4 separate regions of the Homo sapiens genome follow, and all the other regions are linked to region 1. The links come from fine-mapping of genetic effects on gene expression. A gene starts in region 1. Each other region holds a variant in brackets. All regions are shown on one strand. Distances are between the middles of the regions.

Region 1 (7,572 bases):
AACTTAACTCCAGTACCTACTGAGTATCTATGCTTGATAAATGAGTTCTTATTTGCTTAGGATCTGGGACCTGTGGCGCGGGATCCTTCATGAGCAACAACTAAAATCAAGAAAAGCTTTGATTTGGAGAGTGGGCCAGCTCAGGCATCATGGACCAAGAGGCCTCTCTACCCCTTGTCCTGGCCTCCAATATTTCACAATGCTACCTATACCCTGCAGAGTTCAGGGGGAAGTAGATCTGAAATATTCAGATATATGTGCAAATAAAGACACGGATAATAACTCCCATTTTATTTATCTATCACTGTGTAATAAACCACCCCAAAAGTTAATAATGTTAAACAACTACAGTCTTATGATCATCTCATTATTCTGTGGGTTGACTAGGTGGAGCTGGATGGTTTTCCTCTACATAATGTCAGGTGAGACTAGAGTCAAGTGGGAGATCGATTAGGCTGGAGCATCCAAGATGGCTAAAGTCTGTGTATTAATCAGGATCTCAGGTGGAGCTATTGTCCCTATCACCTTTGTTTTCACTCCATGTGGCCTCTCCATGAAACTTCGGCTTCTCACAGCATGGCAGCAGGACCCTAAAAGGAAGGAAACAGAAACTGCCAGTCTCTTAAGACTTGGATTTAGATGTCTCAGAATATCACTTTCATTGCATCCAAAGCAATCACAGGACCAGTCCAGATTCCAAGGGAGGGGAAGTAAACTCCACCTCTTAATGGTGATGTATTTTTCAAAAAAGGAAGGAAAGGATTGAAAAAAGCCATCTTAGAAGACTACCACACCTCCTAAAGCTTTCACTTTTTGCAAAAGGTTTTTATTCTTGAAATGTGTGTATATTTCAACTAAGCAAATATGTACCTAGGAATTTATCCTAAGGAAGTAATCGCAGATGATTCAAAAGATCTGACACAAGGTTGTTCATTGGAATAAAATTGAAACTACCCAATGCCCAACAACAGGGGACCAATTAAGTCCAAAGGTGGTTGAGGACAGTGTTTTAAAAGTCTATTCTCTGGGAAGCAGGTAAAATTAAGCTTAAATTCCAACTCCATTACTTAGCATCTGTGTGATGTCGAGCAAGGTACAGTACTTAAGCTCTTTAAGTCTCAGTTTCTATATCGGTAAAATAAAGACAAAATATAGATTTTTGTGATGATTCAATGAGATGATACATATAAAAGGCTCAGCACATGGTAAATGATCAATAATTGTGAACTGCTATTATTATTTATGATAGTCCTTAGTGCTATCATATTAGTGCAAATCTTTCCCATTCTCTCCATTTCCAGGCACACAATACTTCCATGGATCTTTACAGTTAACTTTGTGTTTAGTTCTGACCAATGAGTTGTAAGTGAAAGTGGCATACGTTACTTCCTGGCTGAACATTTACTTGTCCAACATTATTGATTCTGAAGCTCCTAAATACTGTCAGATAACGGTCTGTCTACTCCATGAGTATACTTCAAGCAAACAGGGATCATACCACATAAAGCAAAAGCCACCTTTGTCTTATTCCTCATTGTTTTCTCTTTATATGGTGCAAGTTCAGTCCATGCTAAACTCTGAACAATTTTAAAACACTGCAACACATCAGAAGCCCCTCATCCTTGCTAGTGTCCATGAGATCCAAGTGCTCTGAAGATATGAGAACCCAGCAGACTGTTTAGAGGGTTACCTGGCTTCCCTCCCACCTGGCCCATTCCACCCTACATACAATCTGTCACCCAGCCAGAAGCAGGTGGCAGTGAGGTGGCAGCAAGGGAAACTTGGCTTATAGAAAACCCTCCTAAGTGATTGATCATCCAGAGGAGGTGCAGCCTCAAAATAGGAATAGCTTCGTTAAGGTTTGGGTAATTTCCATGGAAACAGACAGAACTAGACTTATTTTAAAGGGGGGGGGGGCAGGGCGTGGAATAGCCTGCAAGGGGCATAATAAGGTAAGCGATGTAAAAATGTTGAAGTTGGTGTGGCCGGCGGGACGGGACAAGGCGGGGGAATGGGGGGAGGGTCCCATATTTTTTTCTTTTCTTTTTACAATTTTGGTTCACCCTGGGTGAGGCAGAGGTTGGGAGGAGATCAGGCAGCGGTAAATTCTGATGTTGATGGCAAGTAAATTAGGTTCTTAGCCGGTACCAAATGAGGCTGAGAAAGATGTGGCCCAAGCTGGATTACAGTCATCAAGAAGTTAACAGAATCCTGTAAGAGCCCCTCCAGGTCGCCTTTCAGGTCCGCGAGCATCACGCAAGAGACTCCTTCCCAGGATAGAATCTTGTTTTATGGGCGGTTAAAATGCAAACAAACAGACCCTACATCAGCAATAACCGAACAAACAGGTGCAGGCCATTAAGAAAGTTTTGCATATGAGCTGTTTTAATTTTTGTTGCAAAGGATTTCTGGGGAGTCAAGGGGTATGTCAGAAATTAGAGCCCTAGGGCAGAACTTACAAAAACCTTTTAGCTACTTCCTTCTCCCCGGCCTCGGAAATGAAAAAGCCAAAAGGTCACCCAGCGCATCCGCCACCCAGTCAGCCCCAAGGCCAGCCGTCCTCACCCCAGTCCGGGTCCTCGCCATTGGCCTCTCCGCTGCACACGGCCACCTGTTGATGCCCTCGCGCCCACAGCCGAGTTGCAAACGGCCGCTAGAGTTCGTTCTAATTCCCCAGAGCAGAGCTGCCCGGGAAGCCCCGACGCGACGCGCCTGCTAATCTGCAGGGCGGGCGGGGACTCCGCAGAGCCTCCCAGCCCCAGGCTCCCTTTGTTTTCTCGCTGCGCTCGAAGCTTCTAAACTAGCCCCCAGACCGCATCCCCTCGTCCCCGCCCGGGAGCTGCCCAAGAGTCCACAGGCCAGCCCAGGGGGAAACAAGGTACATCTGGGCAGGAATGCGCGGCGCAGACAGGTTGCCGCCTGAGATCCCGAAGTGTACCCAGATCCCGAATTCCTTAGAGCTCTTTAGCCGAGCACTGTGGCAGGAGCGCGGCGCCCGGAATACAAGTTCATGGTTCCGAGCCGGCGGGCGAAGGGCAGCGCGATCCCCCGCCACCTTTGCTCTAAGGCGCCTAGGGGAACCTGGGGGCTGCCGCGGTGAGAGCTCCGCTCCCACTGGGAACATTGGAGTCCCAGTTGCGAAAGCGACCCGCCTAGCTTCCGAGGGACTTCTCTGCGAGCACCGCAGGCGTGTGCATTTCTTCGAATCTGAGAATTCCAGCGAACTCGGGCTCTACCAGAGTTTAAGTCGGCCCCTGGGGCGTCTGTTTGTTTATTGGCTCTTAAGGGAAAAAAGTTTGAAGATCTTTAACCAGCCTCAGACCTGGCGCGGGCGGAAATCCCGGAATCTCCCCAAGCAAAAGTGATATAACTTCAAGTCGTTATATAAGTGGGGGGCTCCTTCTTCCCCTCCCTACGCCGAGCCTTCTCATTATCATTCCGGGAGTAAAATGTGTCTCGCTCAACATAGTTTTAAAATCGTTATTATTATTTTCCTGAGCCTGAAGCCGGGCCAAGGCGCAGGCAGCGCCCAGGGTGCGTGGTGGCCCCACCCGCGCACAGTCCCACGCAAAGGGTCCCGGGGCCCGGGTACCGCCAGAGCCGGGCCTGCAAGCGCGCCCTTCGGTCCCACGGTCCGCCACTCCACGTGGTCAAGATCAACAGTTTGTTGAGCTCATCAGTGACACCTTGAACTTTTCATAAAGAAAATGGGTATTGCACGGAGACGGTTTGGCCGCGGCCGCCGCGCGGGGTCGTGCTTAATATTCAATGATCTCGCTCGCGCCTCCCCCTCCTCTTCTCGCAGAAATTCCACCGAGTCCGTTACTGGGCTCAGACTTTTAAGTTAATTTACTGCCCCCCTACCTTGGCCAGTAACCAGCGCCTTTAGGGCTAGCCTCCCCCCCAGCTCCTGCCTGAAAAATGACATTTCGCCGGTGTCTCCGGAGGGGGCTGAATTTCACTTTGTAACTTTCTGCGGAACCCGAGCCCGGGTGGCAGCTCGGGTGGTGGTATCGTATGCAAATACGCATGCTGACGTTACAGATCATGTGGGTTTTGGCGTAGATTCCCCACTGATCGAGGCATTTTTTTTCCCTTTTTTTTTCCTTTTTTTTTTTCTTTTAAAAATTTTGGCCATCGTTCTCCGTACGGGGGCTTTTTCTGTCTGTCTGTCTGGCTGGCAGGCTGGCTTTCCCCCTCTTTCCCACGGAGCCCGAGCCGGGCGCCCGGTGGGGAGTGGGGAGTGGGTGGGGGGAGCCAGCAGAGTTCCATTTTGGAACGCCCGTGCCGCGTCTCCGCGTTCCCAGCCCGGGTCCCCGCGTTCACAGCCCCAGCGCAGGTAAGAAACTTCGCCTCGGCGCGGAGCCCCCCAGCCGGCGCCGCCGGCCCCAAACCCCGCACGCCGGGCGCCGGCCACTCCAGCCCAACTTTCCCACCGCCGCCGTCGCCGCCGCGGCTCCCGAAAATGTGTTGTTAATGGGACTTGGCCGGGTTTGTGATTGGAAGGGGGGTACGGAAGGGGGGGGGTGTGCAGGCTCTTTTTGCGGGTGGGAGGAAATGAGCGGATACAGAGAGGGAAGAAGATTTTTTTTTTAAGAGTTTTGATTACAAGTTTGGATAAATGGGAGCCAGAGCGAGGAGGAGGAGGAGGAGGAGGAAAAACATGTCTACGTTTCCCTATGTCGACATAAGCCACAAAAAAATATGGCGTCCGCTTTCGACAGGGCGTTACGTAGACCCGACTGTTTTTATTTATTTATTTCGTGGCCGTCTCCCTCCCTTCTTGGCCAAACTGCGGCGCTTTGTGCAAACGGGGCAGGTCCCGCGGGGACTCCACCGGGACGTGGCCCCGTCTCCGCGCGTTTTGGCAGGCGGGGGGCTGCGTGTGTCTGCTCCCCTCCCTCCCCCTCTCCCCTCGCTCCCCTCTCCCGGTGACGATTCGCCGTAATGTGGTGGCAGGAAGCATGACGCCGTGGGCCGAGGCTGCCTCTGCTCTCGTCGCTCCCGGCGGCTGCAGGCAGCGGGCGCGCAGCGCGGGCGGCAGCCGAGCTACCTGGCGGGGGCAGGGCCGGAGCGCGGCGCTGTCCTCACCCCCGCTCAGGTGCAGGGGGAGTCCGCGCGGGGCGGGGGGCCGAGGGCGGCCGCGGGACCCCCGGCCCTGCTGTCCGCTGCCAGCTGGCCGGAGCCTCTGCCAGCCCGAGCCCACGTTCGCCCCCCTGAACGGCAGCTGGCGCTTTTCGTCTGCCCCACAAGAGGTTAATCTTTGTTGGTGTTGCAGCTTCTTTGTGGCTTCCCCAGGACTTGTATCCTCGGCTTTGCAAACTTGCCCTTTTCCCAGCCGCTTTGCAGGAGGCTGCGGAGACGAAGATGAGCGGAAAGTTGGAAACCAGCAGGCATCACAGGACGGTCCCTTTGGCCTCGTAGCTGTGCTGAGCCTGGGAGGCGGAGGAGGAGGTGGAGGCGGCGGCGGAGGAGGGTTTGTCAGGCTGGGGAGAAAACTTGATGAGGAAGCCAAATTGTGATTTGTTCAGGTTTCCACCTGATTGATAGTCTTCAAAGCCAGTAGGTCTCTACCTTCAACTGTTTCGCGGTGGCCTTTTGTTTGTCTGGGGCGTGGAGAAGGAGAGAAGTCGATGAATAAGGACTTTCCCTCGACCCCTCCCCTTTTAAAGAGTGGTTGCTCAGCTTGGCCCCCTGGGACACTGCCTTTTAGGCCCTGGAGTTCTTCCCCAACCTGCTCTCTGATCACTTTCTCTCTGTTAAGTTACCAGATCTCCAGGTCTCAGGCAGGCCCCGATGAGCAGAATGGAGTTAGAGGAGAGGATTCCTTCCCCCAGCACTTCTTGAATTGCCCAGACCTCCCACAATTACCCTCTTAAAACCACACACACACACACTTACTCACTCTCTCCTTTATATATGGCAGAAATTAATGCCTGTAGAAGTGAAGGGGGTGAGGTTCTGAGAGCTCTTCAAGATTTGAGTCAAAAGGTGATTTTCTGTTTATGAGGGCAGCGAGTTTAAGCAGTTCACTCCCAGGGCAGTAATGTCAAAAAGCGTTTGGATGACGACCAAGTGGAATAAATATCTTGTAAAATGGCATGTTTAATAGTAAAAATAGATTAATGGAGCTGTCAAGTGGTTGAATGGGACTACCATAAAGGTTTAAGTTTAAAGGGAAAGTTATGTAAAGCTGTATACACAGCTTCTTTTAAGGCCAGAAGGGAAAAAATCTACAAGTAAGGCTGAAATGTGTCACTGACAATAATTGGACTGGTGATGTGTGGAAATATCATCGCTGTTTAAATGCTCTGCTCCGCGATTGTTCTCTTGCGCACTTGTACCTTTCCTTCTAGCCAGGTTTGCTGTCAGCTAAAGGATGCACCTGAAGATTGTGCTTCAGGGGAAAATGCAAGAAACCAAGATTCTGGGGCACATCAGCTATCTCAACTAATGTCCATTTGAAGGGGGAAAACACCACTGTTTGTTGGCACTGAAGAAAGGGTATTCCTGTGATGTAAGTGCAGTGTATCTTGACATGCTGAAAGGTGGCCCCACCCGGCGTTTCTCATCCACATCAGGACCATGTGATTTGGTGGGATGCTGTACACTTATCAAAAATAATCATGGCAATGTTTGATAACAGTTTCTAACACTGTTATGGTGTGTGAGGCACAATGCTGTATATTTTACGTGCTTTATCATTTAATTCTCACCACAATCCTGTGAGCTAAGTACTACTATTATCCTCCGTTTATGGTTGAGGAAACAGAGGCTCCAAGAGGTGAAGAAACTTGCCTGAGCGACACAGCAAAAAGCAAATCCAGGCCTAACTTCATAGCCTTAACCAGTCCATTGTAGCAGCATTCAGATACACGACGTCACAGTTAGAATAAAAAAGTAAAGGGTCAGGTCCAGCAGAAAAGAGGGAACAGTAGCCACTGTCCTGAGGTCCGAACTTCAGAATTTACCTGGATTTTATTCCTTTATTCATTTATTTAGCAACTGTGTGTTGATTTATTTATTCATTCAGCAACTATAATGTTCATTATACTAATAAGAACCCATAGCCATTAAGCATTTTTGTATGCCAGGCACTATCCCAAGTGCTTATGACTAGACTATTTTGTCTTCATGACAACTCTGATGTAAGTACTCTCATTCTCTCCTTTTTCTAGATGAGGAGGCACAAGCCCAGGTAAGTTAGCTAACTTGCCCAAGTCCAAACAGCTAGTAAGCGGAGTGGCAGCCCCCAGAACACACACACTCTGCTGTTGCAATGCAGAGCGCATAACCAGATGTATGGAAATGCTGGGGAGACAGAGCCCCCCTGGCAGAAACGCAAAGCACTGCATGCTCCAGACATTATGGAGATGCTGGTGGGATACACACCCCCTGCCCTCTAGGAGTTTGAGCCGACTGCGGGGAAGCACTCATTAAACCAAATCAAGCAGGCTTAGATAAGTGCTATGATTGAGAAAACTAACCACTGTGGAAGCACAAGGAAAGGCATGATTCTTCTGCTCTGAGGGGATCACAGAGGATCTCCTAGAGGTGGGAGCAGCTGAACTG
Region 2 (7,572 bases), 180 kb after region 1:
ACTCAGTCCAGGCTCACCTCGGCCCTGAGGTTAGACACAAAGATAAGGAATACTTCCCAGCCTTTGAATTGTGTTGTCTTGATTCAGTCCCTGTGTCTGAACAATGTTTGAGCCATTCCATTGAGGGACCTGTCCTAGGAAAAGGCTGAAAATTAGACTTATTTTTTCAGAAAAATGAGTCAACGTACTTGAGCAAGACATTGTCAGACATCAGCCTTGATGTTTGGTCAAATGGAATATTCCGTTACTATTGCTAGTGAGGGTTCCCATTAATTGACACCCACTGTGTGCTCAGCTGCCTTCTAAGCACGTCTACTAAGTCACTTCAACTTCATGCCCACCCTGTGAGGTAGGTACAGCCTTGTCCCCATTTTATAGAGGGCAAAACTGAGGGCCAGAGAAAATGAGTAACTTGCCTTATGTTCCTCAGCCAACAGCTGGAAGACCTTGGAGGCCACCTCTCAACTGTCAGGCCAGTGCCTGACCCCAGCCACTATGGCCCTGCCCTCTCCAACAGTGGCACCACCAGCATAGCCCAGAACAAACAGAGTGTGGTCATTTCTTGATTTTGTGTGGGAGTGGAAACTAATCCACAATGTATTCATTCAGCAAGAACTTTAGAGAGCCCTCTTTGTGCTAGGCCCTGTGCTAGTCTGTGTAGATTTGCCAGAATGTCCAAGACACAGCCCCTACCTAATCTCAGTTAATAAAGGTGAGAAATGGACATAGAAACACCTGTTTCATGAGAGTAGTGCACACAGAAACCAGAGGAGCTAGGAGGGGGAGAGGTGGCTTTTCCAACATGTTGTCTGATTCAGAACCTTCCCACCAACCTACATGTGCAAGCCACCTTCCCATTTATTTTAAACAAAGAATTCTGAGGCTCAGGAACCTGCCAGAGTTCACTCAGCCAGTGTCTAAAATTGACTCCAAAGCTCCAGCCACCACCTTCGCTGCCTCCTGATTTCTGTCAACAGTTTCCAACTCCTGATGATTAGGGATGACTTTGGAGAAGAGGAAAAAATTGTGAAATGTCAGAAAGGTATTTTCCATGGTTCGGCTTGGTTAAAATTTTTAAGGCTGCTAAGCATTGCATTCTGGTTACAATTTAAGATCCAGAAGAGGTATGCCCTCACACTCTGTTCAGATTAGCTGTCCAAATGCAGATATTTGAATGAATGAATGAACGAACGAATTAATTAACTAATTAATTAATGAGTGAATGAATGAAAATATTGTTGTCGACTGTTTCCCTCTCTCCTGTACCAGACCCTTACCGGCAGGGACCATATATCATTAATCTCTGAATCCCTAGTTTAGATTCAGAGCAGATGCTGAATAACGGTTTATTGAACGAACCAGAGAATTTTAAAAGATAGTTGGGATCTGGTATTTCAATCCTTTTGCTTGTCCTCATTTTTTTCCCATCACTCATTAGCTCCAATGGTTGACAGCAGCGAGAGGAGAGGGATTGGATACAGTTTGCTTCCTGTGTATGAAAAGCTCAAGAGAAAGGCCTGTTGGAGAATCTGTCACCAGATATTTACTGGTGATGCTTCTCAGGGACTGCCCGTTAGTCTGACTTCCCTCATGCCTAACAGGGAGTTAACTGATACCACTTCCACTTACTTAATTCTGGAGCTTCTCACCCTAGGAATTCTCACTGTGCTTTGGGTGACTTGTGGAGGCTTAGCCACCATGAAATCCAGCCCCCTCATTTTCAGAGGAAGGATGTAGGTCCCAGGGAGATGAAGTCACTAGCCCAGAGACATTCCTAATAAGTGATTTGGTTCATTCATCCATCAAGTATTTGTGGAATGTCTGCAGTGTGCCGGGCTCTGGAAGGCAGTGTGCCCAGCATGTCCCTGCCCTCATGGAGCCCTTGGTCTAATGGGAAATGAAGTTTTAACCAATCTTTAATCAAACAAAAATGAAAGTTGCTACACTGACATGTTCTTTGGTGCCGTTAGAGTATAGAATATGGGAATTTGAGGGTTTAAATAGCAGATTTAAGGTTTAGGGGACACTCCCTAAAGAGGTAATGGGGCCAGGCACAGTGGCTCATACCTGTAATCCCAGCACTTTGGGAGGCTGAGTCACACAGATCACCTGAGGTCAGGACTTCGCACAAACCTGGCCAACATGGTGAAACCCTGTCTCTACTACAAATACAAAAATTAGCTTGGTATAGTGGTGCATGCCTGTAGTCCCTGCCACTTGTGGGGCTGAGGCAGGAGAATCGCTTGAACCCAGGAGGTGGAGGTTACAGTGAGCCGAGATCGCACAACAGCACTCCAACTTGGGGCACAGAGCAAGACTCCATCTCAAAAATAATAATAAATAAGTAAATAAGAAGAAGAAGTAATGGATGGATTGAAAACCAAAGGGTTAGACCAACATGCAGGAGCATGCTGGGCAGAGAGGAGGGGAAGAATATTCCAGACAGAAGAAACAACATACTCAAGGGGAACTGAAAGGTGGCCATGGTGGGCATGACTTGCCTGGGTTCACACTTCACAGAAGTGCAGAGGTTAAAAGCCAGAGCGTTAGGTGGACTCACATATAATCAAAATTTCCCTTGAAATTCCTCTGTCTCACCAGTAAAGGAGATGACATGGTTCATTGTCCATAACCCTAGAGAAAGTTTGATGCCCTCTGAGCTACTCAAGGAAGGAGCAAAAGGAAAACCAACTTGCAAATGTCCTGGGCATTCAGACCCATCTGCCCTAGTGGAAAATGGAGGCTGGATGGTGGAAAATTCTAGAGCACCCACATGCCTATACATTTTACTTTATTCTTTCTATAACCTTAATACTTACTGTATTAGTCAGCTAAGGCTGCCAGAACAGAATGTCACAGGCTGGGTCACTTAAACAACAGAAATTTATTTTCTCACAGTTCTGGAGACTAGATGTTCAAGCTCAGGACACCAGCAGGGTTAGTTTCTGGTGAGGCCTCTCTTCGTAGCTTGCCAACACCCACCTTCTCACTGTGTCCTCACATAGTCTTTGCTCTGTGTGTTCACATGGCTGGTGTCTCTTCTTTTTCTTGTAAGGACACCAGTCCTATGAGATTAGGACTTAATTACCCCACCCTTAGTTACCTCCTTAAAGGCACTATCTCCAAATACAGTCACCTTAGAGATTACGGCTTCAACATATGAATTTAGGGGGGATATAATTCTGTTCATAATGCTTACAAACAGTTGTCTGTATTTGTCAGGATTAAGTGAGATAATATAAATGAAAGCCCCTTGTATTAGGCTGTTTTCATACTGCTATAAAGAACTGCCCAAGACTAGGTAATTTATAAAGGAAAGAGGTTTAATTGACTCACAGTTCAGCATGGCTGGGGAGGCCTCAGGAAACTTACGATCATGGCGGAAGGCGAAGGGGAAGCAAGGCACCTTCTTCACAAGGTGGCAGGAAGAAGTGCTGAGGAAAGAGGGAAGAGCCCCTTATAAAACCATCAGATCTCATGAGAACTCACTCACTATCAGGAGAACAGCTTGGGGGAAACCACCCCCATGATTCAATTACCTCCACCTGGTCTCTCCCTTGACACATGGGGATTATGGGGATTACAATTCAAGATGAGATTTGGGTGGGGACACAAAGCCTAACAATATCACCCCTAGAGCAGGGTTCTAGCATTAGTACCAATAGATACTGCATCTCAACTTGCTTACTGCTCTCTATATGGAGAAGAACTTGGCCCCCTGCTTCTTGCCTTTCCAAGTTGACCTTTTCTGTTGGGGCCCCACATGTTCATGCCAGTGGGTGTTAATTGCATCTCAGGAGGGGTTGGGCTGGGGGTGTCTGGGGCTGTGACACAGGGTAGCACTGCTGAGCACTCACTGTTCCAGGCCTGCTCAGGCACTGTGCATGTGCTGACTCATCTCATTCTCACAGTCACACTCCAAACTATTTTAATAGTTTTG[G/A]GGGAACATGTGGTGTTGGGTTACATGGATAAGTTCTTTAGGTGTGATTTCTGAGCTTTCGGTGCACCTATCACCCGAGCAGTGTACACTGCACCCAATGTGTGCTCTTTTATCCCTGACCCCCCTCTCATCCTTCCCCTGAAGTCCCCAGAGTCTATTATGTCATTCTTATGCCTTTGCTTCCTCATAGCTTAGCTCCCACTTGTGAGTGAGAACATATGATGTTTGGTTTTCCATTCCTGAGTTACTTCACTTAGAATAATGGTCTCCAACTCCATCCAGGTTGCTGTGAATGCCATTATTTCATTCCTTTTTATGGCTGAGTAGTATTCCATGGTATATACATACCACATTTTCTTTATCCACTTGTTGGTTGATGGGCATCTAGGCTCGTTACATATTTTTGCAACTGTGAATTTTGCTGCTATAAACATGCGTGTGCAAGTGTCTTCTTCATATAATGACTTCTTTGTCTCTGGGTAGGTACCCAGTAGTGGGATTGCTGGATCAAATGGTAGTTCTACTTTTAGTTCTTTAAGGACTCTCCATACTGTTTTTCATAGTGGTTGTACTAGTTTACATTTCCACCAGCATTGTAAAAGTGTTCCCTTTTTATCACATCCATGCCAACATCTATTATTTTTTGGTTATTTAATTATGGCCATTCTTGCAGGAGTTAGGTAGTATTGCATTATGATTTTGATTTGCATTTCCCTGATAATGAGTGATGTTGAGCATTTTTTTCATGTTTTTTTTGGCCATTCATATATCTTCTTTTGAGAATTGTCTATTCATGTCTTTAGCCCACTTTATGCGGGATTGTTTTTTCTTGGTGATTTGTTTGAGTTCCTTGTAGATTCTGGATATTAGTCCTTTGTCAGATGCGTAGTTTGTGAATATTTTCTCCCACTCTGTGGGTTGTCTGTTTACTCTGCTGATTATTTCTTTTTCTGTGCAGAAGCTTTTTAGTTTAATTAAGTCCCATCTATTTATCTTTGTTTTTGCTGCATTTGCTTTTGGGTTCTTGGTCATGAACTCTTTGCCTAGGCCAATGTCTAGAAGAGTTTTTCTGATGTTATCTTGGAGAATTTTTATGACTTCACGTCTTAGATTTAAGTCTTTTATTCATCTTGAGTTGATTTTTGTATAAGGTGAGAGATGTGGACCCAGTTTCATTCTTCTACATGAGGCTAGCCAATTATCCCAGCACCATTTATTGAATAGGGTGTCCTTTCCCCACTTTATGTTTTTGTTTGCTTTGTCAAAGATCAATTGGCTGTAAGTATCTGGCTTTATATATATTTTCTCTATCCTGTTCCATTGGTCTATGTGCCTGTTTTTATACCAGTACTATGCTGTTTTGGTAACTATAGCCTTGTAATATAGTTTGAAGTAAGGTAATGTGATGCCCCCAGATTTGTTCTTTTTGCTTAGTCTTGCTTTTGGCTATACGGGCTCTTTTTTGGTTTCATATGACTTTTAAGATTGTTTTTTCTAGTTCTATGAAGAATGATGATGGTATTTTGGTGGGAATTGCATTGAATTTATAGATTGCTTTTGGTAGTATGGTCATTTTCACAATATTAATTCTACCCATCCATGAGCATGGGATGTGTTTCCATTTGTTTGTGTCATCTATGGTTTATTTCAGCTGTGTTTTATAATTTTCCTTGTAGAGATCTTTCACTTCTTTTGTTAGGTATATTCCTAAGTTGGGTTTTTTTTGTTGTTGTTTCTTTGTTTGTTTGTTTTTTTGCACCTGTTATAAAAATAGTTGAGTTCTTGATTTGACTCTCAGCTTGGTTGCTATTGGTGTATGGTAGTGCCACTGATTTGTGTACATTGATTTTGTATTCTGAAACACTGAATTCATTTATCAGATCTAGGAGCTTTTTGGATGAGTCTTTAGGGTTTTCTAGGTATATAATCAACATAGTCAGCAAACAGCAACAGTCTGACTTCCTTAACTTGTATGCCCTTTATTTCTTTCTCTTGTCTGATTGCTCTGGCTAGGACTTCTGGTATTGTGTTGAATAAAAGTGGGGAAAGTGGACATCTTTGTCTTGTTCCGGTTTTCAGGGGAACTACTTTCAACTTTTCCCCATTTAATGTAATGTTGGCTGTGGGTTTGTCATAGATGGCTTTTATTACCTCAAGGTGTGTCCCTTCTATGCCAATTTTGCTGAGGGTTTTAATCATATAGGGATGCTGGATTTTGTCAAATGCTTTTTCTGCATCTATTGAGATGATCATATGATTTTTGTTTTCACTTTTTTTTAATGTGGTGTATCACATTTGACTTGTGTATGTTAAACCAGCCCTGCATCCCTGGTATAAAACCCGCTTGATCATGGTGGATTATCTCTTTGGTATGCTTTTGAATTCAGTTAGCTAGTATTTTGTTAAGGATTTTTGCATCTATGTCCATCAGGGATATTGGTCTGTAGTTTTATTTTTCTTTTGTTACATCCTTTCCTGATTTTGGTATTAGGTGATACTGGCTTCGTAGAAGGATTTAGGGAGGATTCCTTTTTTATCTTTTGCAATAGTTTCAGTAGGATTGGTATCAATTCTTTTTTTTGAATGTCTGATAGAATTCAGCTGTGAATCCACCTGGTCCTGGACTTTTTTTTGTTGGCAATTTTTTTATTACTCTTTCAGTCTTGCTACTTGTTATTTGTCTGTTAAGAGTTTCTGTTTCTTCTGGGTTTAATCTAGGAAGGTTGTATATTTCCAGGATTATTTATCTCCTCTAGGTTTTCTAGTTTATGCTCATAAAGGTGTTCATAGAAACCTTGAATATCTTTTGTATTTCTATGGTATTGGTTGTAATATCTCCTATTTTGTTTCTAATTGAGTTTATTTGGATCTTCTCTCTTCTGTTTTTTTTTTTTTTGGTTAATCTCACAAGTGGTCTATCAATTTTGTTTATCTTTTCAAAGAACCAGCTTTTTGTTTCATTTATCTTTTGAGTTGTTTTTTTCTTTTAATTTCATTTGGTTCTGCTCTAATCTTTGTTATTTCTTTTCTTCTGCTGGGTTTGGGTTTGGTTTGTTCTTGTTTCTCTAGTTTCTTGAGGTGTGAGTTTAGGCTGTTTATTTGTGCTCTTAGACTTTTTGATTGTAGACACTTAATGCTATGAACTTTCCTCTTGGCACTGCTTTTGCTGTATCCCAGAGGTTTTGATCAGTTGCATCACTATTATTGTTCAGTTCAAATAATTTTTTAATTTCCATCTTGATTTCATTGTTGACCCAAGGATCATTCAAGAGCGTATCATTTAACTTCCACGTATTTGTATAATTTTGACTGTTCCTTTCGGAGTTAATTTCCAATGTTATTCCACTGTAGTCTGAGAGAGTACTTGATATAATTTCAATTTTCTTAAATTTATTAAGACTTGTTTTGTGGCCTATCATATGGTCTGTCTTGGAGAATGTTCCATGTGCTGATGAAAATAATGTATATTCTGCAGTTGTTGAGTAGAACATTCGGAAAATATCTGTTAAGCCCATTTGTTCTACGGTGTAGTTTGCGTCTGTTGTTTCTTTGTTGGCTTTCCATCTTGATGACCTGTCTAGTGCTGTCAGTGTAGTGTTGAAGTCCCCACTATTATTGAGTTGCTGTCTATC
Region 3 (7,572 bases), 51 kb after region 1:
ACAGTGCATGTGCGTGTGTGTGTTAGTGATATGGAGGAAGAGGATCTCACTCACACACCAGGAGACTGGAGGGAGGGTGCATTCTTATGCTGGCTGAGCATAAGGGTCATTACGTGGTCACTATGTGGATAAGAGTAACAGAAGAGAAACCAAAACCCAGGAAGACAGGGAGAGCTGCGGCCCACGAATGCATCTACCAGTGTGCAGCTAAACCCATGGCAGGAGACGCTGTCCTTGTGACATACCTTGTTGACCAGAGAGCTCCTCATGCTCTGTGTAATAACTAGGCGGGGCCATGGGCTGTGGGGGATGTGCTGGCGGCAGCCCTGGTGGCCATGGGCACTGAGAAGGGACTGCTCTGAGGGAATGAGTGGTTCATTTAATCGCAGGTGTGTTCCCACGCTTCGCAGGGCTGATGGATCGTGCCTGCAAAGGGGTTCTTGGAAGGCTCATTCTAGGTTGTTCTCATTGGGAATATAAATGAAGTACAACCGGTTTGGGCTCTACCCAGGGTGTTGTAGGTTTTTATTTTATTTTATTTTATTTTACACAGAGTACCCAGGAGATGGCAGATAATAATTCATTTATTTATCCACTACAAATTGAAGAAATTGATCTTTTTTTCAGTTATTAAAACACTACATTTCACCAAAAAGAAAACATTTACTTAACTCTGAGCCATTTATTAAATAGAATATTATAGAACAATTTGAAGTTAGGTTATGAAGACTCTGTAATAGTAAGGGTAGCTGCTTGCATGGGACATTATGTAAAATGAGGACTATATGTAACATATGTGTAGTGGAATAACATTTTCTGAAGGCATACAGATATGCCCAAAGATGGACAGATCAAGCAGCTTGCCTAAAGCCACACCGCTGGTAAATGGCTGAGCCAGGATTCATCAACCTAGGAAGGATGTGTTTTCTTAATCACAGCTAAACTAAACTACCAAGGCTATCTTATGGTACATTCCAACTTCAAATCTGCAAATCCAAAATCATTTGTTCAACTCTGCAAAAGTTGCATCAAACAAGGCTTGTTAACTTTTACTGTCACAGAAGCTTCAAGAACTTATAACAATGCTTAGAGTTGGGTAATGAACTATGCTAGTTTTTTCTTTACTTTTCAAAGTTTATTTAATGTGCTTATATTCTCTTTATAATGACATGGACGTACCTACATCCATACAAATCAGGGAGAAAATGAGAATAAGAACAATATGAAAACTCTCCCACCTCATTGTAAGAGTTGGGGAAAAACATATTTCTATTTGAGCACTGTTAGGAACCACACATGAAAGATTGGTCCCACCTTCAAGTGCTGAGGAACAGGGTAGAGACCAAATACACAAGCAAGTTTCTGTGACAACAGTTGAAAAGCTATAGCTGTAAGAGTTGAGTGTTCTGAATTTTCAGAGTGCCAAAAGGATATAAAATAAATGACCCCAGCCAGAATTCATCTTGACAAGCTTTCTGCACATATAAGGTGAGTTTGGAGAGACATTTACAAGTAGCAATGGCCTTCCCTCAACTGGTGGAAGGAATGGCATAGGCAGATTGTGAAGTGGAGCCCTGTTGGTGATGAAGAAGTGGGTTTGACACTAGGGAGAGTCTGAATGTGCCACATTGAGGGACGGAAGCATGTTAAGTTTTCAATATTGTCAGAGCTATTTGAACCAGAGCAACTCCATCTTGAATGGAGGCTGGGTAAAATGAGGCTGAGACCTACTTGTAAGGTTCTTGTATCAGTTCAAACCCTGAGCGTGTGCCGACAGACAACAGGAGGCGGTGTGGAGCAACTTGCTGTTTTAATGAGAGCCTGGGTGCACACGGGCTGAGGCCTAAAATGGCGTCAGCACCAAGTGAGGACGGGGCAAAGGATTTATAGTGTCCTGTAAACAGGAAGTGTCCTAGTCTGATGTAACTGCTACGTTGTACCCAGATGGCCTGTTTCTTGATCTTCAGGGGTACGTGTCTTCCAGCTGGCCTTCTTCCTGCTTCTGCTATTTTGCTGGCGCACACTGCTGGCACAAGTAGCCTTGCACCTTGGGACTGGGCCTGAGAAGGGAGGAGTTATTCATCCCCTTAAGCTTTCAGGCCCCGGGGAGAATCTTACATTCCTGTCTATTTGGTTATAGAAAAGGGAAAAGGGACAACTTTCTTAATAACTACTTCAGGCGGGACATAGGGGGTGGTGTGGGCACGTTGGAAAAAGAAAACCTTAATTTTTAGGTATTCTTGAGAGATGGGTTGGTATTCACCATGTCGTTGTAGCAGGAGCATCGCCTGCATTGTCTGGAAATATGTCTGTGCCTGCAAGACAGTTATGTTGAGAGGACAAGGAGGTGTCGACAGGGAGAAGCATGGCCTCATCTGCTGCTTTATGAATGAAACACCGTGTCTGGATTAAGGAGGGGAGGTAATTACTGCGTGGCTCAGAGTCTGGTAAGGATGGAGGCCCTAAGACAAAAGTTTGGCCATACATGATTTTAAAGGGACTATAAAAAGAGGGTGCTTTTGGTGTTGCACAGTTTCATGAGGGCAAAAGGGAGATGTTTTGTCCACAACTGGCGGGTTTCTAGAGCCAGCTTGGTGAGTTGGGCTTTAAGGACAGGGTTAATTTTTTCAACTTTGCCTAACGATTGAGGCCTGTAGGGTGTGTGGAGAACTTACTTTATTCTTAAGGATGTAGAGTCGCCTTGGGTAATTTAGCTGATGAAGGCGGGCCCGTTACCAGAGTGGATGGATGTTAGGAGTCCAAAACAGGGAATTATATGCATAAGAGTTTGTGTGACAATATTTGCAGCTTCTGAAGTTGTCGGGAATGCTTCTACTTATCTGGAGAAAGTACAGACAAAGACTAGAAGATAGCAGAGCCGTTTATCGGGCGGCATGTGAGCGAAGTCTACCTGCCAATCTTGCCCAGGTACCTGGCCTCGGGCTTGGTGGGTAGGAAAAGGCGGCGGCCAGAGGGAGCCCTGGGATGACACTGAGTGGCAGATAGAGCAGGACTGGGTAATTTATCAAACATGGCTGGAAAGGTGAGGACAAGTGAGGCTAGGGCGGAGACGTTACAGGAGAGGTTTGTAACCAACATGGAAAGACTTGTGGAGGCTTTGGAGGTGAGGAAGGCTTTGAGAGTGAAGAAGAACGAAGCGCCCTTCTTTGACATACCATGGTCCTTGCTTTTGAAGGTTTTGGGCTCGGAAGTCCTCCTTTTCTTCTGAGGAGTAAAGCGGAGAGAACAAGGACAGGGACAGAAACTGGCCTTGCACGGGTTGTAGGGCCACTTGTTTGGCTACCTGATCTGCTAGCACATTTCCAGCCAATATAGGATTGTCTGGGGTTTGGTGGCCCCTGCAATGAATGATGGCAACTTTTTGCGGGAGCCTGGCAGCTTTAAGGAGCTTGTTGATGAGAGAGCCATTTATGGCAGGAGTGTTTTTTGCAGTTAGGATACCCCGTTCTTTCCAGATGGATGAGTGTGAGTGCACTATGTGGAACACATAATGAGAATTTGAATATATGTTGATCTGTTGTCCTGCTGCTAGAGTGAGAGCTCGAGTGAGGGCGATGAGTTCAGCTTCTTGGGAGGTGGTGCCTAGCGGGAGGAGATTGGCTTCAATAGTGTGCATGTGGGGTGGTGACACTACAGCATAGCCAGCATTCTGGTGTCCTTGATGTAGGAAGGAGCTGCCATTCAAAACCAAGTAAAGGAGGCATCTGGAAGGGGTTGGTCTGTTAGGTTTGGAAAAGGTATAAGGAAGGTTTGAACAGTGTTTACACAGAAATGTGTAGGGTCTTGGGCAGTTGCAGCTTCAGGTAAGAGCGTGGCCGGGTTTAGATGGGAGATGGTTAGACGGTGAT[G/A]TGGGGAGTTTCTACGAATAGAGCATACAGTTGGAGGAGCCGTGGGGCAGAGATGAGACTTAGTACACTGCGGTGAGCTAGCTTGTCTTTGATGTTATGGGTTGAATAAACTGTTAGTTTGGCTTGGAGAGATAGTTTTAGGCTTTCAAGGGTGAGGACAGCAGCTGCCGCCAATGCTCAGAGGCAGGCAGGCCGTCTGAGAACTGTGGCTTCAAGCTGTTTGGAGAGGTAGGCAACAACCTGGAGGGTGGGTCCCTTAGACTGGGTTAGAACACCAGTACAACTCCACGCCGTTCGTCGGTATAGAGGGAGAAAGATTTGGTGAAGTCTGAGAGAGTGAGCACGGGGGCTGAGGTGAGAGCCTTCTGGAGCAGACAGAAAGGTTGGGGAATAGGCTGTGCAGGGTTTGAAGTCTTATGGAGAGGGCCTTTAGCAGCTTAGTATAACGGTTTGGCAAGTAGAGCGAAGGAGGGAACCCAGAGCCTAAAATATCCTGCTAGTCCTAGAAAAGAGAGAATTTCTTGCTTAGTTTGCGGAGGCGGGAGGGACTGGAGGAGGGATATGCGGTCGGTTGTGAGCCCTCGGGTTTGCAGGGTAAGAGCTAGGCCTAGATAGGTGACCGAGGAGGTGCATATTTGTGCTTTCTTAGGGGAGACCTAATACTCCCGTTCTGCCAAGAAGTTTAAAAGAGATAGTATGGGCGTTGCAGTCCCTTTGAGAGGGGCTACACAGGAGCAGATCATTAACACATTGAAGGAGAGTGGACGGTTTTAGGGATAAGGTAAAAAGGTCGCAAGCAAGGGCCTGTACGAAGAGGTGGGGGCTGTCTCTGAAACCTTGAGGTAGTACACACCAGGTGAGCCGACGTGAAATGTGGGTGTCAGGATTTTCCCACATAAAGGCAAAGAGGTTTTGGGAATTCGAGTGTAAAGGAATTGTGAAAAAGGCATTGTTTAAGGTTTAGAACAGAAAAATGAGTGGTATTGGAGGGAATCGTGAAAAGTAAAGTATATGGGTTAGGAACTGCTGGACATACCGGGAGTACAGCTTGGTTAATGAGCCTGGGGTCCTGGACTAAGCATTAAGTTCCATGTGGCTTTTTAACAGGTAGAATTGGTGTGTTAAAAGGGGAGTTTGTTGGGCGGAGTAGGCGACTGGTGAGGAGGTGAGAAATGATAGGCTTTAGGCCTATGAGAGCTGCTGAGGAATGGGATACTGCTTCTGTGATAGGAACTGGGTGGGCTCTTTAACAGTAATGCGGACGGGGGTGTGGTGTTCTGTGACTGAAGGTGTGGAAGTATCCTAAACTGCGGAGTTAACTACGGGCGGCGGATAAGGAGAAGTTGCATGTTTTAAGGTGGGAGGTTGGAGGAGTAGAAGAAAGTTAGATGGCCCAGAGGAGTCTGGGTTGATGCGTTGGGTACTATGGGGAATGTGGATGTGGAGAGTAGTGTGGCGTTTTGAAAGGATGTCTCTGCCTAGGAGCGGAGTTGGGCATGAGGGCAGGACTAAGAAAGAGTGAGCGGGCCGGGCGCGGTGGCTCACGCCTGTAATCCCAGCACTGTGGGAGGCCGAGGCGGGTGGATCACGAGGTCAGGAGATCGAGACCATCCTGGCTAACACGGTGAAACCTCATCTCTACTAAAAAATACAAAAAATTAGCCGGGCGTGGTGGTGGGCGCCTGTAGTCCCAGCTACTCGGGAGGCTGAGGCAGGAGAATGGCGTGAACCCGGGAGGCGGAGCTTGCAGTGAGCTGAGATCGCGCCACTGCACTCCAGCCTGGGCGACAGAGCAAGACTCCGTCTCAAAAAAAAAAAAGAGTGAGTGAAGGAAAAGGTGTGCAGGGAGCAGAAAAGTGGAGGGCTGGCTCAGGGTTTGGAGACTTGTCCCTCAATTCCCACAACGGAGACTTGGGAGGACTGGGTGGGTCCTGAAAAATTAGGTAAAGCAGAGTAGGTTGCCCGGTATTAATTCAAAAATAACATACCGGCCCACCTGCCACCATCAGGGTTACCCTTGGCTTGGATGAAGTGATGGTAGTTGCCAGGGCGTCTGTTCCAGGGCACCCTCAGTCTTCAGCGGCAGGGCCGATGAGATCCAAGTAGGAGGTTTTGGCCGGCTCCGGAAGGGATGGGGGCGGTCCTTGCTGGGGCTGCTCATAGTCCGACTTCCAGTGGGGTCCTCCGCAGAGGGGGCACGGCCTGGTGCGCTTACCTGGGTTTGGGCATTGTCTGGACCTGTGACCTTCATTGCCGCACTTGAAACAGGCGCCAGGTGGAGGTGGATTGCTAGGAGGCTTCCGTGTGGAGCTATGGCCCCGTGGGCCTGCAGGGCCCCTGATGGCAGAGGTAAGCATTCGAAACTCTGCCTGTTTTTGCCTTTTACTTTCCTCATCACGATTGTTAAAGACTTTGAAGGCTAAATTTAGAAGGTCTCATTGTGGGGTTTGAGGGCCGTCATCAAGCTTCTGAAGCTTGTGCCGAATATCGGTGGTGGATTGGGAGATGAACCGAAGGTTTAAGATAGTGGTTCCTTCTGGGCTAGCTGGGTCTAGGTTGGTATATTTTTTAATGGCTTCAGTTAAATGAGAGAGAAAAAGGGCTGGGTTTTCATTAGGACCTTGGGTGATTTCTGAAAGTTTTTCATAGTTTACCGCTTTATGGGCACCCTTTTTGAGTCCTGCAAGGAGACACACAATTATGTGGTTTCAACGGTGGCATCCAGAGGCCCTGTCTTGATAATCCCAGTGGGGGTCCTGGTTGGGGACTGCCTCCGCACCAGTAGGCTGGGCAGGAGCTTGGTGATGAATGGTATCAGCATGTGCCTGAGCTACAGTCCAGATACGGTCTTGGTCTTCTGGGGTGAGGGTGGAAGAGAGGATAACCTAGAGGTCATGCCGGGTCAGTTCATAAGACTGGGTGAGGTACTGAAATTTTCTAATATAAGAGGTAGCATCTTCTGGAAATGAACCGAATCTTTTGTTAATTTGAGAGAGATCAGTGAGGCAGAAGGAAACATGAACTCTAACAATACCTTCATTTTCTACTACTTTCTGAAGGGGGTATTCTAGCACCGGCGCTGAAGTAAGGGCGGGGCATGGGCCAAAGATGGCGCCCGAGCGAGTAAGGGCAGGAGAGAAGGAAGAAGCTGGAAGTGGTTTCTGCTGAGGGTTTGAAGGGGGAAGGGTGGTTGAGTTGATAAGCAGTGGAGGATAGGGGCGTAAGGTGGTGGGATGGGTTTACAAGCCTCAGGAGAGGGCGGTGGGGGAGGAGAATGGGTACAGGCAATACTAGAATTGTCCTGAGTAGGGGACGGTGTAGGAAAAGAAGTGGATACTGCTTACTGAGAAGATGGCGACTGGGAAGATGGCAGCTGAGAAGACAACGAGGAGGCTTGCAGGGGTTAAAGAAGATGGTTGAGAGGAAGAGGTAAGGGCTGGGAGGGGTGGACAGCAGTCTGCTGGATTTAATGAGGAAAAAGAGGTAGGGTCGGGAAGAGAAAGGCGATCAGGGTGGCAAGAATGGAGAAGGATTTGAACAGGTAAGAAAGAATTGCAGAGGTTGGGTTGTGATTTGAGAATAAAAAGGCCTGGACATAAGGAACTTCTCATTTCTTCAGTTGTCAGCAATAATTGCTTAAGTCAGTTAAAATTGTAAAGTTGAATGTTTCATTTGCGGGCCATTTGGACCCATTATTTAATTC
Region 4 (7,572 bases), 200 kb after region 1:
TGGCTAACTCATCTCCCAGTTCCTGCCTGCACTGCCTTCCCTGCCTGTGCCCCCAGCACCTGAACCTTCCCCAGACCTCATCACCCACATACTGTCTTGTCCTCCCTCCCATTAATGAACATTTCCAACACTCTCTCCCTTGACAGGTGGCTGCCTTCCCCTCCTGCCATTTACCACCCTTGTGCTTAAGCTTGCCACTCCAAGGCAATTTAAATAAATCTTTCGAGCAAGATGGTATGAGATGCTATCAAATGCTTGAAGGACCCAAAGAGAAAGCCTTGATAATTGATGGGGATGAAAATACAATGGGAAGATGGGTGTGCTCTTTTAAACACCCAGCAAAATATGTCAAGATATCTTCCTCCACTGGAAATGATTAAAGAGTGGCAGAAACTAGGAAGGAGGTTCTTAGGGGGAATAGAGGGGCAGGATTCTTGGTGAGGTGGAAGAGAGTGGTGGGGTGGAGCGACCATCTGCTGCTGCTTCTGTCTGCCCTATACCTCTTGAACTCCTTCTCTTCCTTGAGGATGTACTCATATCTCCCTCCACTCATCTCATTCTTGGGGCTTCCCATCATGGTGACCCACTCTCCGATCTACAGCAGTGACCCACGGCACTCTAGTACCCTATTCAGGGACAGGTACAGTACCACGCATAAGACCCAAACAGCACCAAGTCAGATACTGGGAGGAAGAGCTTCCTTTCCCATTTAGATGGTAAGTGCAATCATGTTAGCTTGGAACCACCAGTGGCCAAAGCCCCTGCCAGGGAGAGGAAGCCAGTCCTTAAGTAGAGAGAATGGGGCCACAAACTCAAGAGGCAAGGGAGCAATAAAGGATGGAGCAAGGGATGATGATGGTGGCGGTGATGACGGCAGTGGTGATGACAATGTTGATAATCATGTGAATCCCTGGAGCCTGCCATTCCTAAGGCCAACTCCTTGTCTTTCCAGTTTCATAAAAACCAACATATTTTCCTTTTTAGCTTAAGCTTCAAATCTTTTGAGTTGGGTTTCTGTCACCAGAAACTCAAAGAGTTCTGGTGGGTTAATGAAATTATGAGATAAAAATGAAAGGAAAGACAGCAATTGTAAATAGCCATGTTGGCTAGTGGCTTCAGTATTGGATGGTGCGGTTCTTAGTCCTTGCCATTCAAATGTGCTCCTGAATCAGCAGCATAGGTATCACCGGGAGCTTGTTAGAAATGCAGTATCTTTGGCCCCTATGCCAGACCTGTTGAATCAGATTCTGTAATTTGACAGGATCCCCAGATGATTCGTATGTTCAGTAAAGTTGAAGAAACCCAGCTCTGAAGACACTAAATGGCTCCTCCCCAACCTCCTCCAGCACACTAAGGGATGGGTGGCAAGTCTAATAATACATCACTGGCCTGTCTGCAGAGGGTAGACCCTAGGGCCTGGGAACAGGGAGGCAGAGGAAGAACAGGGCAGAAAGAGCATGGTCCACCAGCTGATGACACACTTGTCCTTCTAGGCCACCTGGTGCACAGCCACTTCCAACCAACAGTGCTTGGAAAGGATAGCTCTCACTGACCTGTCACAATGCAACCCAGAGAGAACCAGGAAAGATGTCAGCTCCCTCCTTCTAATCGCTGAAAGCTCCTGTCTCCAACATCTCACAGCTGGACATACGTATAAAGCACAGCAGAAAAATTATCATTGCCCTGGGCAGGGGAAGGGGGTTGATCGATAAAAATGAATAAAAAACACTTCATGAGCACATCCCATGACATGCTGCAAGTTGAGTATCCTGTAGAGTGTAGGAGGCATCCTGATCTTGACTTTGAGAAACTTAAAATCAGAGGGAGACCAAAATGTTCACCAGTAATTCTGAAACCTTCATCCATAACAAGCCCCCAAAGCACTACAGACTGCCTTAATCTGGATCCTTGCAGGAAAGAAATTGAACACTTACAATGGGTAAACTGGGAGTGGTTTATTAAAAAGGATTTTTATAAAGGTGTGAACAGGGTTTAGAAAAACTAACAAGGGAAGATGCAGAAAGCCTGGCTTGAAGGGACAAGGGATGGACAAAAGATGCCAAATGCACACTAAGCTTGCCGTCATACCCCACTCCACACCCACAGCAGATATTAATGATCAATCAAACTACCTTCGCCTGCTGGACTTGGTCAGGTCTTCATGATACTTAACACAATGCTCCACCACAAATCTATTAACCTTGGAACATGAGATGAAATATGTGATGGATGCCATTGGTTGCCCAACTAATATCCATCCCCCTATCCTTCCTTGCCAACAGAACCAAGATATTCCTCAGGCAGTGTCTTCATCTACTTGTGCTGCTATAAAGGAATAGTTGAGGCTGGGTAATTTATAAAGAAAAGAGGTTTATTTGGCTCATGGTTCTGTAGACTGTACAAGAAACGTGGTGCTACCATTTGCTTGGCTTCTGGTGGGGGTCTCAGGTTGCTTCCACTCATGGTAAAAAGTGAAGGGGAGCTGACTGTGCAGAGATCACATGAAGAGAGAGGAAGTAAAGTGGGGAGGGATGTCAGCTCTTTAACCAGCTCTCAGAGGAACTAATAGAGCCAGAACTCACCACAGAGATAGCACCAAGCCATTAATGGCGAGTCCACCTCCATGACCAAAACATCTCCCATTAGGCCCCACCTCCAACATTAGGGATCACATTTAAACATGAGATTTGGAGGGGTCAAACAAACCAAACTATAGCAGACAGTAGCATACCCATGCCCAGGTGAGAAACTCAGTTTCCCAGCTTCCCTTTCAGCTAGGTGTAGTTAGTGAGACATCACCAGAAGGCCACTGAATAGTTGGTGCTACTCTCCTTCTTTACTTTTTCTTGTCTTGTATGCATTTTGTGATCTCGAGACTGAGTTCTTTTTGACTTTAGAGTCCATGACCAAGTGCTGCAGCTTCCTGTTTCCAAACTTCTTGATATGTGAGAAAAGTAAACCCCTATTTGTTTAACCCATCACTCAGTGAATTTGTTTAACACATGCAATCAGATGCACTCATAATTAACACAAATCTATCTGCCATCCCTGGGCTAGATAGATATAAATCCTTTCTCTCATACATGCATTCATTTATCCCTATACTAACTGCCATGGTAAGATAAGTCAGGCATATACATTGCCTACACAAGGAAATTTGATCTATGTTTGAGGGATGAGTTTGACAAGTGGATAAATCAGAGGAAGGCACAAGAAGTATAAATAAGGGTATATACAATTTCAGAATTTTAAATAATAGGAATCCAACAAGCAGTCTATAATGTGTAACAAAAGAAGAAACCATCAATTTTGAGCAACGAGTTTTGGAAAACAATCAAGTCACCCTGACTCAAATCTGGTAAGAAAAAAACAGAAGTGCTTATCTACTTGGAAAGAACCTGAAAAATAGCCAAAGAATTATGCTATGAGTTTTTATGATGGGAAATCAGAAAGTGATTTGAGATTTCTCTTTTTTT[GTTTGT/G]TTTGTTTTGTTTTGTTTTGTTTTGTTTTGAGATGGAGTCTCGCTCTGTTGCCCAGTGGCATGATCTCGGCTCACTGCAACCTCCACCTCCCAGGTTCAAGCGATTCTCCTGTCTCAGCCTCCTGAGTAGCTGGGACTATAGACACACACCACCACGCCTGGCTAATTTTTTTTGTATTTTTAGTAGAGACAGGGTTTCACCATGTTGGCCAGGCTGGTCTCAAACTCCTGACCTCAAGTGATCCGCCCTCCTCGACCTCCCAAAGTGCTGGGATTACAGGCGTGAGCCACCGTGTTCGGCCTGAGATTTCTCAAAATAAGTAAAATATCATTTAAAAAAAAAGATGTAAAGTGAAAAAACATACATTTGAGGTTCTTTAACTTGGACTTTGCTTCCCATAGCTAAGTTTGTGTCACAAACCTTGGAATCGGATTCTTCTCTCCAAATTTATTCTCCAGCTCCTCCTTACTCAACCTCTCCTTCTCACTGGTCTGCTCATTTATCAACGAACATCCCTTAGGTTGATGCAGTTTCTCTTCTTAGAATGCTCATGCCTTCCCCTTTTCTTGCCTAAATTCTACCTAATTCTTCCAGTTCTACCAGACCAAATAAAGGTGAATACGGGGTGACAGAGAAACTAGATTTAAGAAAGACATATATATTCCAACTGGCTCTCAGGGAACTCTGTTCCTCTGAATTCCTGGAGCAATTACCACTGATAGGATTTATTTAGTTCTAATCATATATGGGTTTAGTTGTTTAATCTTCTCTCTCTGTGAGGATCCTCCTGGTCAGAAGGTGTGCTGAACATCAGTTTTCATCTCTCCAGCGTCCCTTCCCTCTCTCTTTTAGTAGCAATACACATACCCCTCCCCATTGGAGAAGTCTTCTAAGGCCCTGTTCTTTCCCTGTTTCAACTAAACACTGCTGGTGTGGCAATTATGATTGTCTGTGTGTCTGTCCACCATATGAGCCAAGGACCAGGTCTTTGTCTTTGTACGCTAACATTTAAAGCAAGCATACATTCAATCGTGAGTTGTATACATACATCTGTACCAGCAATACTAGGAGTTTAATTAGACTAGGGAATGATAGTAAGGTATTTGAAAAAAAAAATAACTTGTGGGAAAATACCCATGATAGGATAAAATAGATTAATGTTCATAAACTTCCTCCCTTCACCTCACCTGCCCAAGAGAACCTCTCACTGACAGCCCGATTCCCCTTTCTCCCCCATCTCACCAACATAGCACTGCCTGGATTTTTGGAGTGCAGAGTCAGAGTAAGCAAAGAAGGACAGCACCAGAGAGGTGGGATGAGAAGTAGAAGGACACTGAGAAAAAGGTTAATCAATCTACCTAATAAAAAATGGAGAGAGAAAAGAGAGGATGTTCAGGAAGTAGAAGTCACTGGGGCTGCTGGCAAAAGAAATAATTCTTCAAAGTTTTGGTTAATAAAGTCCTTCAGAGTGCGGGATATGAGAAAACCCGGCAAGAATCCAAAGAGGATGAAGACATGCCATGGATTAAACATGGAAGCCCGTTGAATGTCCTTTCAGAAAGATGAGGGAAAAAAATAAATTCTCTTTTAATGAAGTTTTGGCTTATTTGAACTGTGCCTCTATAACTGCTTCTAGGACTGGATCACGGGGGTCACAGCTTCAATAGTGCTACACAAGAAAGTCATCGCAGTACACGTGAAATGCAACTGGAAAACCAGCTGAAAACATATCCTGCTATCAATAGGATACACCTCATCACCCATTTCCATGGCCCATAATCATCCCCACTTTTGCCCATACTGTCCTCTGTCTGGTAGAAATTCTTCTGAACCCTGGAGTAGTCAGAAACACAGTTAAACAGTAGAGGACATGTGACTTTCCATCATCCCATGAACTATCCATGGTAAGGCCACCCCAGGATTCATGGGCTCTGAATTCTGGCCTCTGTTTTACCATTCATGGGTTCCATGACTCTGGACAAATCAGTCACTTCCCCTCATTGAGTCTCAGTTTCCTCATTTGAAAAATGAGAGGGTTTAGACCAGATGACCATGAACAGTTCGTTCTGACTCCGAGACTCTCCTGTGTAGGAGCCTGGACCAACACACCTCTGCAAAGTATCCAGGCTTCAGTTTCCTCCCTTTATCCTCAACCAAAGCCTTTGGGGGAGTTTTTAGGACAGCAGGGAGTTAAGTAAGCTTCTGGGCAATAGCACTAAATCTTTTGAGCAAAGATTGTCAGCAAGCCCCCCTGGGGAACTTTGAAGAAGCATCTGTGTCCATAAACAGTGTTTAATTAAAAAGCAATGTACAACAGAATGGAAAACTGAAAAGTAGGCTGTGGAGGAATATTTCTCCAAACCCAGAACATACCACTCTGTATCTCTCCTCAGACAAGCTACATCCACAATGCCATCTGTTTCAACACACACACACACACACACACACACACACACACACACACACACGCTTTGTTTGGGGTCATTTAAGTTTCCACCTGCTCTGGAAAGACAGCTGCCCTTGCTCTGTGCCTGGACAGTCTTCTAGGCTCCCAGGACGCCATCTCCACCCAACAGAGGTGGGTGAACCTTCCAGGGTCAACATGAGAACCAGGCTGAGAGCTGGGTTGGCCTTAGCAGGATACATTTCTCTCCAAGGGATTTTTAAATCCATGTGTGTTCCAGAGGAAGTTTTACATGGTGCTTCTGCCCCCCTTGTGTGCCAGATCATCAGCATATTGTGTAAGAATGGCTAGGGCTCCAGGAAGGACGCACTCCCATAGAACTTTAAAACTTTGATCCCCTGCCTTGGGAAACTGCATAATTTTCCACATCAGACGAACAAAGTTTGGACTTCAGCACTCTTCAAGACTGGATTCAGGAATCTGCCCAAAGACACATATCTAGTAAGTGTCAGAGCCAGGATTGAAACTGATTGGTTTCAGATTTCTCTGAAACCAAAGCCCAGACATTTAACCACAATATTCTAGCCACTCATCAAGTGGTTGTCATGGCTCAGAACTAATTACAACATTGGTAACAGCACAGGGGAGCACATACGTTCAAAACGGGCCGACATATTGGCATATGTGCCCCGGGTGTTATATCCCCTGAGGATTTCTTCAAACACTTCCAGTCCAGGAGAGTGGATAGTCTTCCTTTGTAGGAGTCTTTCTTTCATGTTTGTGGTCATGGAAGGCTGAGTGGGAATGGGAGGCATGGGCTGGAGACAGCCTTTCAAGGAGGCTTGAAGAGGAATAAAAACAGACTTTAAACAACGCGGGTATCAAATGACTTTAAAGATCAACTCCGGTTTACTCCTAAGAATGAAGGACCAGGAGACTAAAGGAATTTGAAATCCACATCATGACCTGTAAAACTTTGCTTTATGTGATTGCTTAATTCAACTGCCTCCCTAAACCAATTTTTCAATTTCTTCTCCTCATCACTTGAAGAAAGTTGAAAAAGGTGATGGAATGCCCAGTCTCTGTCTCTGGCAGAATTCTCACACACTGTTTTATAGTTATTCATCCATGTGACATAAGGTAAAGATCTTAACTTATTTATATTTATATCTTCAACATCTAACACATCATAAGGCTCTTGATAAATATTAGAGGTGGGAAAGAAGGAAATTTTGACTGGAAGGATATAAATAAAACAAGGATTTATATAACTCACATAAAGTTAGCAACCAAGAGTAGTACATAAATTTAAGATTTTTCTTATATAAAAACCAAGAGTGATATGTGGTCTTGAATGGATCCTGGTTTGAACAGACCAATTGTAATTGTAAAAGACATTTAGAGGCCGGATACAGTGGCTCACGCCTGTAAACCCAGCACTCTGAGAGGCCAAGGCAGGCAGGAAGCCTAAGGTCAGGAGTTCAAGACCAGCCTGGCCAACATGGTGAATCCTCATCTCTACTAAAAATACAAAAATTTAGCCAGGCATGGTGGCACGCGCCTGTAGTCCCAGTTATTCAGAAGGCTGACGCAGGAGAATAGCTTGAACCTAGGAAGTGGAGGTCGCAGTGAGCTGAGATCGCACCACTGCACTTCAGCCTGGGCGACAGAGAGAGACTGCATCTC

Evidence for each region. PIP is the estimated chance that this variant, and not a neighbour inherited with it, causes the effect.
Region 2: its variant is the best candidate, but not a certain one, in a credible set for the expression of ZHX2 in whole blood (INTERVAL, PIP 0.54).
Region 3: its variant is the best candidate, but not a certain one, in a credible set for the expression of ZHX2 in prefrontal cortex (ROSMAP, PIP 0.75).
Region 4: its variant is the best candidate, but not a certain one, in a credible set for the expression of ZHX2 in monocytes (CEDAR, PIP 0.64).

What each region holds. Positions count from the first base shown.
Region 1 is chr8:122,777,608-122,785,179 of GRCh38, forward strand. ZHX2 (zinc fingers and homeoboxes 2) reads left to right here and starts at 4,048. Exons shown (of 4, transcript NM_014943.5): 1 at 4,048-4,339. ZHX2-AS1 (ZHX2 antisense RNA 2) reads right to left here and starts at 3,997. Exons shown (of 2, transcript XR_007061082.1): 1 at 2,566-3,997; 2 at 277-590. RefSeq lists enhancers at 2,491-2,992, 2,993-3,492, 4,660-4,709, 5,365-5,899 and silencers at 4,760-4,829, 5,050-5,179, 5,960-6,039.
Region 2 is chr8:122,958,212-122,965,783 of GRCh38, forward strand. All of the region lies in intron 3 of ZHX2 (zinc fingers and homeoboxes 2), which reads left to right. Among named protein-coding and RNA genes, the nearest start is that of DERL1, 80 kb to the right of the region's middle. The variant G/A (reference allele first, on the strand shown) is at 3,941.
Region 3 is chr8:122,828,321-122,835,892 of GRCh38, forward strand. The region is part of intron 1 of ZHX2 (zinc fingers and homeoboxes 2); the gene reads left to right. Among named protein-coding and RNA genes, the nearest start is that of ZHX2, 50 kb to the left of the region's middle. RefSeq lists an enhancer at 7,451-7,572. The variant G/A (reference allele first, on the strand shown) is at 3,870.
Region 4 is chr8:122,979,525-122,987,096 of GRCh38, forward strand. No RefSeq gene overlaps it. Among named protein-coding and RNA genes, the nearest start is that of DERL1, 59 kb to the right of the region's middle. The variant GTTTGT/G (reference allele first, on the strand shown) is at 3,477.